2 separate regions of the Homo sapiens genome follow, and region 2 is linked to region 1. Evidence: fine-mapped expression QTL. Tissue or cell type: thyroid. Region 1 holds a variant in brackets; the other region holds the start of a gene. All regions are shown on one strand. Distances are between the middles of the regions. Region 1 overlaps GLDC (glycine decarboxylase). Region 2 holds the start of GLDC (glycine decarboxylase).

What was found.
Region 2: it holds the start of GLDC, and the variant in region 1 is fine-mapped to the expression of GLDC in thyroid (GTEx, PIP above 0.99).

Annotation. Positions count from the first base shown.
Region 1 is chr9:6,608,723-6,611,480 of GRCh38, reverse strand. It overlaps GLDC (glycine decarboxylase), which reads left to right. Exons shown (of 25, transcript NM_000170.3): 4 at 1,125-1,289. Among named protein-coding and RNA genes, the nearest start is that of GLDC, 36 kb to the left of the region's middle. The variant G/A (reference allele first, on the strand shown) is at 1,155.
Region 2 is chr9:6,644,785-6,647,800 of GRCh38, reverse strand. GLDC (glycine decarboxylase) reads left to right here and starts at 2,072. Exons shown (of 25, transcript NM_000170.3): 1 at 2,072-2,556. The coding sequence starts at 2,302. RefSeq lists enhancers at 1-78, 1,065-1,164, 1,215-1,324, 2,305-2,862 and silencers at 1,995-2,244, 2,315-2,514, 2,555-2,624.

The sequences.
Region 1 (2,758 bases):
GGGTTCAAGCGATTCTCCTGCCTCAGCCTCCTGAGTAGCTGGGACTACAGGCACGTGCCACCACGCCTGGCTAATTGTTTGTATTTTTAGTAGAGACGGGTTTCACCATGTTAGCCAGGATGGTCTCGATCTCCTGACCTCGTGATCCGCCCGCCTTGACCTCCCAAGTAAAATAGGTGAGGTGTGGTAGCTCTCGCCTGTAAGGATGAAGGAACTAAATTGGCTAACTGACATATCCAAAGCCACATTCTTGGCTAATAATTGAAGGAGATAAAGTTAGAATCCATGTTTACGTTGCCTTCTAAACATTTCCATCCTGGAATTTCAATAGCCATAGAGTTAACTGCCATGGACTCTTAGTAACTGGATAATGAGAATTCTTAAGTAGACCTCTATTAATTTCTTAGCATGTAGAACTTCTCCTGGTTAACATAAAACAAATATCCAAATAAATAAATAAAATGTTTGAGTATTACATGTTAGATTCTTGGATGCTTTCCTATTGTAAAATGTGAATGAGGTCTTTTATCTAGGGGAAAGATAATAGCAAATGAAATTTCTGTTTATGATATTATAGGTAGCCTCAAGTGCAGTGGCTCATGCCTATAATGCCAGCATGTTGGCAGGCCGAGGCAGGTGGATTGCTTGAGCTCAGGAGTTCAAGACCAGCTTGGGTAACATGACAAAACCCTGGCTGTACAAAGAATACAAAAATTAGCTGAGCGTGATGGCATGTGCTTGTTGTCCCAGCCACTTTGGAGACTTAGGCCAGAGGATCTCTTGAGCCTTGTACATTGAGGCTCAGTGAGTCGTGATCATGCTATTGCACTCCAGCCTGGGTGACAGAGCGAGACCCTGTCTCAAAAACCAACAAACAAAAAACAAAAAAACAACACCAGAGAGATAGAAAAATAAGTACTGCTTATCCCCAAACAAAGGGTAATATTGTTACTATGATTTAATTCTAAGCTTTACAAAGGCCAAAAAGAAGCTTACTGGTGTGTTATGTAATTCTCCTCAAGATAGGCAAATTATTTTCAGGTACTGAATTCTGAAATGATAGCATTTTGTGTGCTTCTCTAAACAGCAGTCAGTTTGGACAAGACCTTTTGTTTCCCTTGCAGGATCACCCAGTATACTCCATACCAGCCTGA[G/A]GTGTCTCAGGGGAGGCTGGAGAGTTTACTCAACTACCAGACCATGGTGTGTGACATCACAGGCCTGGACATGGCCAATGCATCCCTGCTGGATGAGGGGACTGCAGCCGCAGAGGCACTGCAGCTGTGCTACAGGTGAGAGGCCTCTCAAAGTGCTGGAATTCCAGTTGTGGGCCACCTCGCCTGGCCTTGTTTTCTTTCTATAGTATATTGTGAATATTACTTTAGTCAGCTTTCTAGAGTATGACTTTTCAGAGAAACTGAAAAACTCAACAGGTTCAAAAACCTAGAGGTTGGATATTTCCTCTCAGGGTCCTTCTTGGTGTCTCCACCCGGATTTTGGTTGGGGTTGGGGAAGATCAGACGGGAGGGCTGAGGTTGGCAGGCGAGGGGTAAAGACATCTGCATATTTGGTGAGGGGACTATTTTTGGGAGGAAGGACAGGGAGCCGGTGCCAGGTCCCCCACTGGGAAGTGCTGGCTTGGGGAAGCAGCCAAGCGCAGGCCTGGGGGCTGCGAGGGTGGGCCAGCAGGGTTGTTCAGGGGACAGGGTGAGGTCTCTCAAGGCAGGGCAGTGAGGCTAGGGTGGAAATGTGACCTTAAACAGCTGACTCGGCACCTAGCTTTGGGAGGGCAGAGGGCGGGAGCAGGGGAGGGGGAAGCTCAATTAGGAGTGGACTTTGGATAGATGTGGCTGGGGGTGGGGGTGAGGGTGTTTCAAGGGCAGGTGTGGGTCAGACGTGAGGATCTCCCCCATAACACACACACATGACTGAGTGCCCGGGAGCCTCTCCGTTGTTCCAAACCTTGGCAGCATAGCTGAGTGTAAAGGCATGAGGGTCTCTGTTTGGTGGGGTTGTAAGAGGGTAGTGACAAAGGTCCTGGCACTGTGGTCAAGGGTGGATTCTCAGGCCCATAGAGTAGGACTTCTATTATCTCCATGGCACTTACATGGAAGTGCCATAATTTATTTAATCTCTCGTCTATTACACATATAGTTTATTTCCGTCTCTTACTGTTATTAATAGTACTTCATGTGCATCCTTATAATAAATCTTTGTCAAAACTTCTGATTATTTCCTGAAGAGCCATTTCTGGAAGTGGACTTACTGAATCAGGATGGTTCTCCATTTCTTCTGCTTCCCTTATTTGCCTTGCCAGTACTTAGGAGTGTACCTTCCTGGTGGAATTCTCATGTAGATGGCCATCTGGTTGGGAAAGACGCACACATGCTGGCCGTGTCTTAGGTTTTGTGCTCCTAGCCCTGAATGCCCATGTAAGCCTCTTTTTTGGCTTATGCAGAGTTGGGGTGGGGAGTGAGCTCCATACTTGGTCAGCAAGTTTAGAGGCCTCTGGTGCATTCCAGCCATAGGCCTTTCTGATTCCTGAGCAGCCGTTGGGGGTGGGTTCAGGTTCTCCCTTCTGTCAGGGACACACAGCCACAAAAGAGTGCCATCCACCCACCTCTCTGGTTATTATTCTCAGCTTTTTGCTAATTTTCATCTTCCCTCTTTTTTTAAAAAATTGCTTTTTATCTTATTTCATTTATTTATTTATTATTTATTAATTTATTTATTTATTTGAGACGGAGTCTCGCTCTTTCGC
Region 2 (3,016 bases), 36 kb before region 1:
CCGCCTCGGCCTCCCAAAGTGCTGGGATTACAGGAGTGAGCCACCGCACCCGGCCCCAATTCTCATATACATATATGTGTGTATATATACATGTTTTTTTTTGGCAGAAGGCAAATAACATCCATCACCACGGAGCCAAAGGGATCTGGGAATTATTGTTCCCTGGCTTCCAGTCCCTCTGATACATAGAAACAACATAGACAGGAATAGGAATAAATGCAGATTACCTCCTCCCTCCAATCCTTCCCCACAACCCCCACCATCTGGCACTGAGGAGATCTCCCAACTTTTATGAAGGTTGTAATTTCAATTCCAAATGGCCGAAAAACTTTTCGGAGACATTCAGCCCAGCCGTCCTAGCTCACCACCCGCCTCCGTCTGCCATACAGACATTTTACCTACTGTTCTTTGTGGTGTATTTTCCTGCCCTCTTTTCCATCTCTACTTTCCTGCCTCTCTGGATAGTCTGTGCCTCCTGGGTACGGAGCCCAGAATCTGTTAAGGGTGATTGGAGGAGGAAACTTAGCAGATAAGCAAGAAAGAGAACAGGTTTTATTTTCCCCTAGTCTAAGTACAAGTAATGTTCTGATTACTTCTGTCCTCTCTTCCCCATATTAGAACAACTGGAATTTTAAAAGTTCATTCTCTTGCTAAAACTGTCATGAGACAGCTGGAGATGGTACATTTACAAAAAATCCAGTTCTAGATGGCTAACTTTCAAAGTAAGACGACAGTGAACAATGTCTATCTTAATATCCTTTGTACTTTTGCTGGGCGCAGTGGCTCACGCCTGTAATGACGGATCACGAGGTCAGGAGATCGAGACCATCCTGCCTAAAACGGTGAAACCCCGTCTCTACTAAAAATAAAAATAAAAAATGGCCGGCCGTGGTGGCACGTGCCTGTAGTCCCAGCTACTCAGGAGCCTGAGGCAGGACAATCGCTTGAACCCGGGAGGTGGAGGTTGCAGTGAGCCAAGATCGCGCCACTGCACTCCAGCCAGGGCGACAGAGCGAGATTCCGTCTCAAAAACAACAACAAAATATCCTTTGTAGTTTTACACACACACGTATATGTATATACAGTACATATATTTAAAAAAACATATACACACACACACACAGTTCTTTTTTTTTTTTTTTTCCTGAGTCTCGTTCTGTGGCCCACGCTGGAGTGCAGTGGTGCGATCACATCTCACTGCAGCCTGAAACTCCCTGACTCAAGCAATCCTCCCACCTCAGCCTCCAGAGTAGCTGGGACTTCAGAAGCACGCAACCACGCCCCACTAATTTTTGTATTTTTTGTAGAGACAGGGTTTCACAATGCTGCCCAAGCTGGTCTCGAACTCCTGGGCTCAAGCTATCCTACCGCGTCGGTTTCCGAAAGTGTTGCGATTACAGGCGTGAGCCATAGCGTTACATGTGGTGGGGGGGAAGAGAGAGAAAGAGAGAGAGTGAGAAGAAGGAGGAGGAGGAGGAGGAGGAGAAAGAAGGAAGAAAGAAAAGAAAAGAAATATAGAGAGGGTGTTCAAATCTACTGTTCAAGTGCTTTCCATGTACATATAATCTCTTTTTAAAATCCCATCCAGCTCTGTTGAGATGAGAAAACTGAAGCTCTGAGAGGTTGAGTAACTTTATCACGCTCCCGCAAAGATAAAAGAACCGCCATCTGCCCATATTAATTTCCCTGAGATGAAATGTGACAGAGAAAGATACCTCAAAATTAAGGAAATGGAGAGCTTCGAGAATCATCTTCCATCTCCGCCGAGTCCCCCAGGAACTTGGCCCGGAGTCTTTGGGCTGTCCCACCTGATCTTGCCCCAGTGCGGCTCCACACCCTGGCGGGCGGCGTACGGAGCGTCCCGGCCCCCGGCACCAGCCAGCGTCGGAGTGGGTAGGACTGGAGATGGCAGCCTCCGGTCCAGGGGAAGCGGGACTCCACGGAAGGGCTGGGAAGAGGGTAGGAAGAGGGGGCGGGGGCGGGAACTGTTCCGCCCCCTCCCCCTCTGTCTACTTTCATTGGCCAAGGGCTTCCTGGCCCCAACCCACCTCCCGCCTCCAGGGCGCCGCTTAAAGTGTGCGGAGCAGGTGCCTTGGGTGGAGCCACAACTTTGCGCGAGTGTCTTGGTTGAGCGCAGCGCCCATTCATTGCCCGCGAGCGTCCATCCATCTGTCCGGCCGACTGTCCAGCGAAAGGGGCTCCAGGCCGGGCGCAGCCGCCACCCGGGGGACCGAGGCCAGGAGAGGGGCCAAGAGCGCGGCTGACCCTTGCGGGCCGGGGCAGGGGACGGTGGCCGCGGCCATGCAGTCCTGTGCCAGGGCGTGGGGGCTGCGCCTGGGCCGCGGGGTCGGGGGCGGCCGCCGCCTGGCTGGGGGATCGGGGCCGTGCTGGGCGCCGCGGAGCCGGGACAGCAGCAGTGGCGGCGGGGACAGCGCCGCGGCTGGGGCCTCGCGCCTCCTGGAGCGCCTTCTGCCCAGACACGACGACTTCGCTCGGAGGCACATCGGCCCTGGGGACAAAGACCAGAGAGAGATGCTGCAGACCTTGGGGCTGGCGGTAAGGACCTCCACCCGGCCCTCCGCGGCCTCCCCTCCGCCCTGCCCGGGCTCTGCCTGCGCGGCCTCCCGGCTCCTACCCTGAGCTCTGCTGCGCTCCGCGTGGTCCCCGCACCCTGGGTCCCGGGCCGTGGCGTGGAAGCAAATTCGTGCCTTTGGTCCTCGTGCCTTCTTACTTCTTAACAGCTTACTTTCTCCTGCACCCAGTCTTCGTGCCTCAAAAGTGTACATTTTTAAACCACCCCCAGCCCAAGTGGCCCTGTGGATGGACCTAAACTTTGCAAGAGGAGGAAGACCCCCTGATTAAGAGTGGGCTTACCGGTTAGCTCCGGTTGCAACTGAAATCCAACCCCGAGTGGCGGAATCTCCACCCCACTTCACGATTTTCTTTCCTCCAAATCATTCTGGCTTGCTCAGAGTTTTCCTTTTCTTTTAAAAAGAACCCTAATTAGGCGATTTCA